Linked DNA regions of Homo sapiens. The protein of the gene in region 1 purifies or fractionates together with the protein of each later gene. This does not show direct contact. Each region holds a gene or a part of one and is shown in the gene's direction. Other genes may lie near its edges. The genes, in order: PCDHA11 and ITFG1.

What was found.
Region 2: the proteins of PCDHA11 (region 1) and ITFG1 purify together in Homo sapiens (affinity purification with mass spectrometry; one large-scale study listed by BioGRID and IntAct). This does not show direct contact.

The regions. Positions count from the first base shown.
Region 1 is NC_000005.10:140,867,133-140,871,756, forward strand, and holds the start of PCDHA11 (protocadherin alpha-11 isoform 1 precursor), read left to right. Parts: upstream 1-1,824; 5' UTR 1,825-1,971; coding exon 1,972-4,362; coding exon of another isoform or gene 4,363-4,404; exon of another isoform or gene 4,405-4,468; intron 4,469-4,624. UniProt on the Homo sapiens protein: Potential calcium-dependent cell-adhesion protein. May be involved in the establishment and maintenance of specific neuronal connections in the brain.
Region 2 is NC_000016.10:47,160,331-47,164,154, reverse strand, and holds part of ITFG1 (T-cell immunomodulatory protein isoform 1 precursor), read left to right. Parts: intron 1-1,407; exon of another isoform or gene 1,408-1,490; coding exon 1,491-1,615; intron 1,616-2,322; coding exon 2,323-2,405; intron 2,406-2,564; exon of another isoform or gene 2,565-2,606; intron 2,607-3,824. UniProt on the Homo sapiens protein: Modulator of T-cell function. Has a protective effect in graft versus host disease model.

The DNA.
Region 1 (4,624 bases):
ATATTATCATTTTTCCAGAGTAAACCTTCTAAGGTTCATTTCCCTACCTCGCAAGACTCCACATTCCATGTAACATCTTCATCCCCAATTCCCATAATAAGGTGATTGAGGATCTGTTGTTTCCTTTTGTTCAAAATAAACCTGATGTGCTTCAAATATCATGTTGAATATACTGTCATCTGGTCTAATGTTATGTTTTGATTAGAGGCTACTATGATTGATTATTTTACAGATGCGTAATGGAATTAACGGTTATAAAAGTTGATATGTCTCCTTTAATTTTTTAATACAGAATTTTGCATTTACCTGAATTAGAGTTCTAGTGTTATGACAACATTGGGAAAAGAGTAAATATGAAAAAAGTAGAACAAAATCTCAAATTAATAGTTGAATATATATATAAAATATTAGCATACACATATGATAACTTTTTCATATGCCCTTGCAGTATTTTTAGATTGGAGATAAACCATCAAAACTATAGAACAAAATATTTAAGCTAGAGTGATATTTATTCTAAATCACTTTCTACTCTAAAATTTTGTTGCATCTTCTTTTTTTCCTCCTAAATCCTAAGGGTATATGAAAAGACAAAGAAAATTCAAGCAAGTTACAACTTCAGGCAAAGAAAACTCTCATAAGCAATTCCTGTATTTTACTTAGCATTTTCTATGAAATTCCATTTCCACAAGCACTAAGGTAATTTACCATTTAGTTGAATTGTTTGATTAATTTTCTATGTTTTAAGCACAATATCAGGTACTTACAGAAGGTATAATTAAAAATCACTTCCCTTGTTTTCCATGAACTTCTGCTCCCAAACCCAAAATTCTTTCAACAAGAAACAAACTATTTTCATGAATATAACTGAATTAGATTAAGGAAACCAATGTTGGTGACTTGGAAATACCAATATGGCACAAAGATGTTCAGGGTGATTTTATTTATTTTATAAAATGATAATAAAATTTATTTTATAGTTGAAAAGCCTATTTCTGTCATATCATTGATTCTGTTACATAAAGTGCTAAATTTTGATATCTCATATTATGCTACTATGGCTTACATTAGAAATAATATATGTCAAATAAAAACTCATCTAGATCAATAGACTTTTCCTTTGTGGATTCTTTTTTAAAACTACCAAGTTTGAGAATATGAATATATTTGTTTTTCATATTGTTCTGCAATGAATATAAAGTCACTTATAATCAGAAAGCAATTAAATGTAAATAACAGTAAAGAATGAGAACTATAGAAAATAGATATGAAAATGCAAGCCCACAGAGATGAGAATAGATCATGTGGAACATAAACACTAAAGAGCTGCTTTTATAAAACTTCAATTTTTTCTTTGAGTTCCCTAGCAGCCAAAGTAACAAGGGAGACTGAAAGTAAAACAATTCAAATTTGATAGTATTTTTATATGAGGAACAACACTTTCAGGAAATGTTTAACCCTAGTTTTTCATGAGGCCACCTTAACAACTGAATTCTCTTTCTCTCTCACTCTGTGTATAAGTATTTTAGATAAGTAAAAGAACAATGTTATAATGTTAAGTCAAACATAGACACAATAATTTAAATTTGATGTTAATCGAGAAATACAATGCCATTTCCATATATATTTAGTTTCAATATGACTTATAATCTGAATATTCCATAAATAAGCACGTTGGAAATATTTGGGGGAAGAAACCCAAAACACGTGAAATTCTGTGGTGGTAAATGCAGTGCACAGTACTCACAGTTTTAGGCGCAAGGTGTCGCTCTTTACTTGGTGGAAAGTTCATTTAAAGGTTGGTCTGAACAGTGAGGCACTCCCATACAAAGGAACTCCATCATACCGGATGCCACCGTTTAAGGATCCTTTGAAACTTCTTAAGAATTCAACGAGATTTTTAACCTGAAACTGAAGAATCTGGTACTGTAAGTGTAAAGAAGCTTATTTTGGAAGCCAATTTCGTATGCGATGTTTGGTTTTCAGAGAAGGGGATTGGGCACCCCACGACTACAGCTCTGGCTTCTCCTCCTCGAATTCTGGGAGGTGGGGAGCGGCCAGCTCCACTACTCCGTCTCGGAGGAGGCCAAACACGGCACCTTCGTGGGCCGCATCGCGCAGGACCTGGGGCTGGAGCTGGCGGAGCTGGTGCAGCGCCTGTTCCGGGTGGCGTCCAAAACACATGGGGACCTTCTGGAGGTAAATCTGCAGAATGGCATTTTGTTTGTGAATTCTCGGATCGACCGCGAGGAGCTGTGCGGGCAGAGCGCGGAGTGCAGCATCCACCTGGAGGTGATCGTGGACAGGCCGCTGCAGGTTTTCCATGTGAACGTGGAGGTGAAGGACATTAACGACAACCCGCCGGTGTTCTCGCTCAGAGAACAAAAGCTGCTGATTGCGGAATCTAAGCAATCGGACTCGCGTTTTCCACTAGAGGGAGCTTCTGATGCTGACATTGAAGAGAATGCTCTATTGACCTACAGGCTAAGTAAAAATGAGTATTTTTCTTTAGATTCACCAACAAATGGTAAGCAGATTAAAAGACTGTCACTTATTTTAAAGAAGTCTCTGGATAGAGAGAAAACTCCGGAACTTAATTTGCTGCTAACAGCTACAGACGGGGGAAAACCAGAGCTTACTGGCACCGTTCGGCTGTTAGTCCAAGTCTTGGATGTCAACGACAATGATCCAGAGTTTGATAAATCAGAATATAAGGTGAGCCTTATGGAAAATGCTGCTAAAGAAACTCTTGTGCTCAAACTAAACGCCACAGACCGAGACGAAGGAGTCAATGGAGAGGTAACATACTCCTTAATGTCAATTAAGCCCAATGGAAGACACTTATTTACACTAGATCAAAATAATGGAGAAGTGAGGGTCAATGGAACTTTAGATTATGAAGAAAACAAGTTTTATAAAATTGAAGTACAGGCTACAGATAAGGGGACTCCCCCAATGGCAGGTCACTGTACAGTCTGGGTGGAAATCTTGGACACCAACGATAACTCTCCTGAAGTCGCCGTGACTTCCTTGTCCCTCCCAGTACGAGAGGACGCTCAGCCCAGCACGGTCATTGCCCTGATCAGCGTGTCTGACCGTGACTCAGGTGTCAACGGACAGGTGACCTGCTCGCTGACGCCCCACGTTCCCTTCAAGCTGGTGTCCACCTTCAAGAATTACTACTCGTTGGTGCTGGACAGCGCCCTGGACCGCGAGAACGTGTGGGCCTATGAACTGGTGGTGACTGCGCGGGATGGGGGTTCGCCTTCTCTGTGGGCCACGGCCAGGGTATCCGTGGAGGTGGCCGACGTGAACGACAATGCGCCTGCGTTCGCACAGCCCGAGTACACCGTGTTCGTGAAGGAGAACAACCCACCAGGCTGCCACATCTTCACAGTGTCGGCGCGGGACGCGGACGCGCAGGAGAACGCGCTGGTGTCCTACTCGCTGGTGGAGCGGCGGTTGGGCGACCGCGCGCTGTCGAGCTACGTGTCGGTGCACGCGGAGAGCGGCAAGGTGTACGCGCTGCAGCCGTTGGACCACGAGGAGCTGGAGCTGCTACAGTTCCAGGTGAGCGCGCGCGATGCGGGCGTGCCGCCTCTGAGCAGCAACGTGACGCTGCAGGTGTTCGTGCTGGACGAGAACGACAACGCGCCGGCACTGCTGGCGACTCAGGCTGGCAGCGCGGGAGGCGCAGTTAACAAGCTAGTACCGCGGTCGGTGGGTGCGGGCCACGTGGTGGCGAAGGTGCGCGCAGTGGATGCGGACTCAGGCTACAACGCGTGGCTTTCATATGAATTGCAGCCGGCGGCGGGCGGCTCGCGCATCCCGTTCCGCGTGGGGCTGTACACGGGCGAGATAAGCACAACGCGTGCCCTGGACGAGGCAGACTCGCCGCGCCACCGACTTCTAGTACTGGTGAAGGATCACGGTGAGCCGGCGCTGACGGCCACGGCCACCGTGCTGGTGTCGTTGGTGGAGAGCGGACAGGCGCCAAAGGCCTCTTCCCGGACTTTGGCGGGCGCCGCGAGCCCAGAGGCTGCGCTGGTGGATGTCAACGTGTACCTGATCATCGCCATCTGCGTGGTGTCCAGCCTCCTGGTACTCACGCTGCTGCTGTATACGGCGCTGTGGTGGTCGGCAACGCCCACTGAGGGCGCGTGCGCGCCGGGGAAGCCCACGCTGGTGTGCTCCCGCGCGGTGGGGAGCTGGTCATACTCGCAGCAGAGGCGGCAGAGGGTGTGCTCTGAGGAGGGCCCACCTAAGACGGACCTCATGGCCTTCAGCCCCAGTCTTCCTCTAGGTCTGAATAAAGAGGAGGAAGGGGAAAGACAGGAGCCAGGGTCAAATCACCCCGGACAGGTGAGTTTTCTACAGATTCCACCTATCAGGAAGTGTATGTGAAATTATTTAAAATCCAGTTTTTTTTCACGGATTTTTTAAGGGAAAGTTTTATGAATAACCAGTGTTTTGAATATTGTTTTAGATAACAATGTCTGTTCATAAAATACCAAATGATACACATCTTCAGTCTTTTAATCATATGAATAATCTGGCTTCTTTAACCAATAAATGTCCTATTTCTCTTAATATTTGGTTAGCAAATCCTAAAAGAAATGAGATG
Region 2 (3,824 bases), on another chromosome or scaffold:
AACAACAAACCCTTGGGTGGGGTTAAGCGATACCAGAGTTATCAATATTATCTTAAAAGTCCAGTTTTCAACAAAAATTATAAGACATACAAAGAAACAGGAAAGTAGGCTAATACACATCTCTTTAAAAAAATAAAAAGACAACAGAAAATGTGCCTACAGGGCCAGATGCTTTACTTAATTGGTGTGTGTGTGTGTGTATGTGTGTGTGTGTGTGTGTGTGTGTGTGTGTGTGTGTGTAGTTGAGCTTCTTTCACGTGTTTATTGACCATTTTCATGGCTAATAACTATTAGTCATTTGGGAAATGCAAGTAAAAACCATAATGAGATACCACTTCACAACCATGAGCATGGCTATAATACAAAAGACACAACAAAAAGTGTTATTGAGGATGTGGAAAAATTTGAACCATTATCCATTGCTGGTGGGAACATAAAATGGTGCAGGTACTTTGGAAACAGTTCGATAGTTCCTAATGATGTTAAACACTTAGCTACATAATCAAAAGAAAGGAAAACAAGAGTGAATACAAAAATAAACCTGTATATGAATGTTCACAGCAGTATTTTCATAGTAACCAAAAATGGAAATGACTGAAATGTCCATCAATTAATGAAATTAATTAATGAAACAAAATGTATATATAACAAAGTGGAGTATTATTTGGCAAGTAACAGTAATAAAGTATGGAAACATGCTACCATATAGATGAACCTTGAAAACATGCTAAGTGAAAGAAGCCAGTCACAAAAGACCACATTGTATGATTGCATTTATATGAAATCTTCAGAATAGGCAAATCTATTGAGTCAGAAAGCAGATTAGTGATTACATACAGCTGGAAGTGTGCAGGTTGGAAACAGACATGGCTTCTCATGTGTATGGAGTTTCTTTCTCAAGTGATAAAAATGTTCTAAGATTAGATTGTGGTGATGGCTGAACAATTCTTTGAATATACTCAAAACCACTTAACTGTACACTTTAAACGGGTGATGTGTATGGTATGTGAATTATATCTCAGTAACGCTGTTTTCTTTAAAAAGTGAATCATTGGCTGAGCACGGTGGGTCACGCCTGTAATCCCAGCATTTTGAGAGCCCGAGGCAGGGGGATCACTTGAGCCCAGGAGTTCAAGGCCGGGCAACATAGTAAGACCCCGTCTCCACAAATATTTAAAAATTAGCCGAGCCTGGTGGCACATGCCTGTGGTCTCAGCTACTTGGGAGGCTCGGAAGGAGGATAGCTTGAGCCTGAGAGGTCAAGGCTCAGTGCAGTGCTACTGCACTGCAGCCTAGGTGGCAGAGTGAGACCATGTCTCAAAAAAAGAAAAAAGTGAATCATTAATATTAATGACCTGTATCTTTCATTTCACATTTTGAAACGTGATACATTCCAGTACCTAAATTTTTAACATTTTATCATTTTAATATTTGATGGGAGCAATGTTTCCAGAGATGTTTTTAATTTTTTTTTAATTGAATAACTCTAGCTGGCCAACTCAGCCAATCCGCACATTTAGCTCTCCAACTACCATACAACGTGCTTGGTTTAGGTCGGAGCGCAAATTTTCTTGACCATCTCTACGTTGGTATTCCCCGTCCATCTGGAGAAAAAGTGAGTAAAAATTCATTTTGTTTACAATTAATCTATGTTTTAATATTCACTATTTAAGTATTTAAATTAAATAATTTGAACCTAATTGAATTTGAATTCAAATAAACCAAATATTTTTATTCCCTTTAAAGAATAAAGAAAAATTTATTGGTAGTGACCTAAGCTTATCTTACTTAGAGCACATCATGATTTTAAGATACCGTGTAGTTTTTCCCTCTCCTCTCCCATAAACGTCACCTATCCCTCTATCCTGCTTTTTCATCCTAACATTTTTCACCACCTAACGTGTACATAAATATTTTAGTAACATAAATAATATTATTATACATATGTGTATTATTTATATAATATGTAAAATCATATTATTTTACTTGCTTTGTTTATTGTCAGTCTCAATTTGAATTTTAGCTCCAAGCAGCATTTGTACATAGCCCTTTGAACAGTGCCTGCTACGTAAGTGTCTAATAAATATTTGTTGAATGAATGAATTCATAAAACACAAATATAATCTTTCCCAAAAAGATGAGAAAATTTTCCAACAGATGGCACAAAAGCCTTATTTTTGGCTTAATATTGGTAAACATAGCTTAATCCATACCTAGAATTTGAATTTCTCAAAGTAGCTAGATTTTTCATTATTTATTTAGAATAATAATTGTGTTTTTTAAATGTGCTGAATGTTAAATGTTCTTAAATTCTTCTTCCAGTCTATACGAAAACAAGAGTGGACTGCAATCATTCCAAATTCCCAGCTAATTGTCATTCCATACCCTCACAATGTCCCTCGAAGGTAATGTACTTGCTTGAACCGATTTGGTAAAGACACTGCTAACTCTGAATTATACATACAGTGATGTCTTTTAAGCTCTCTCATATTCCTGCTGTGTTCCCATGAGTGCCCATCCCTTAATTTGCTTACGGCAAACTTTAAATGACTAAACATACTTACATAAAAGGTCCCAGACATTTTTCATGAAGAACAAATTCAATCCTATTAGAAAAACAGGAGGTTAACTAATTAGGGATTTATATGTATTCTGCTTAAATAAACTGCTCTTCAGTTTACTAGTTATAAATTCAAACTTTCAGGATACTAAATCTTTGTATAAAGCACTAATCTTTTAAATAAATTATTTGAGAAGTAGTATATATCCCACAGTGGTTGGGCACAAATTTTGGAGTTAAATAGATGTAGGCTAAAATGATTCAGCTCCATTGCTGGCTGACTGCAAGAGTAGGAGCCAGTCCTTTGTCCTCTCCAAGACTCACTTTCTGCATCTGAGGGTGAAATATACTTAACACAGTGCCAAGCATGTGGTAAGCGAATGGTAGGTATTTTTATCCTTATTAACAGAATACATTCATTTCATAATACAGCATTTAACTTTAAATCCTTAAATTTTATTCATTTTTATTTAAATTCCTAGATTGATTCTATTCCTTTTAAATTAGGCGATAAAAGTATTCACTAACATTTAAATTTCATAGGGAAAAATATGCTAGACAAATATCAATATGAGAAAATAACCAAAGAGAAATGGTGAATTTATCTATGAATATGTAACCAGTGGGGTCCCCTGCTTGTTACATTCCCTCTGAAAATACCAGCTTCATCATTCTTTATTAAACATCTCGATCGAATGTATTGATTGCCAAAACCAGCTTATGCCACTTCATGACCTGACTCTGTGCATCTCTATTCAGTGAAGTCACACTGAAATCAGTTATGGTAGGAGAATCTACTCCATGAAAATTGGCAAGTACCATAAACAAGGCTTCCCGAACCCCTCTCTACCTCAGAGCCAGTTTACCAGCATACCAGCAGATGCATTTTATGGTAAATTAATGGGCTTCAGAACCAAACTGCTTAAGAAAATAAACTTTATCACAGCCTTATGCTTGGAATAAGATGACATCATTGAAACAGTTATAGTCCTGGTTCAGATTTTTTTTAATGAGCCTGTATTGTATGTTTGTGTTAGTTTTCTATAGATGAAATTTACAGTAAAACTAGAAAATCTGGACCATGAGTAGGAAACTATATAAAGTACGGTACTTCTATACAGCTCAGTAGCATGATTTTTTTTCACTGCCACGGACATAGAACAGTCTCTTAAGATGGAGTGGTAAGCAAAAAACAATAACAACAACAACAAACAAAAGAAGCAACAGCAAAATGTAGAAGAGTATGTATAATAAGCAGCCATTG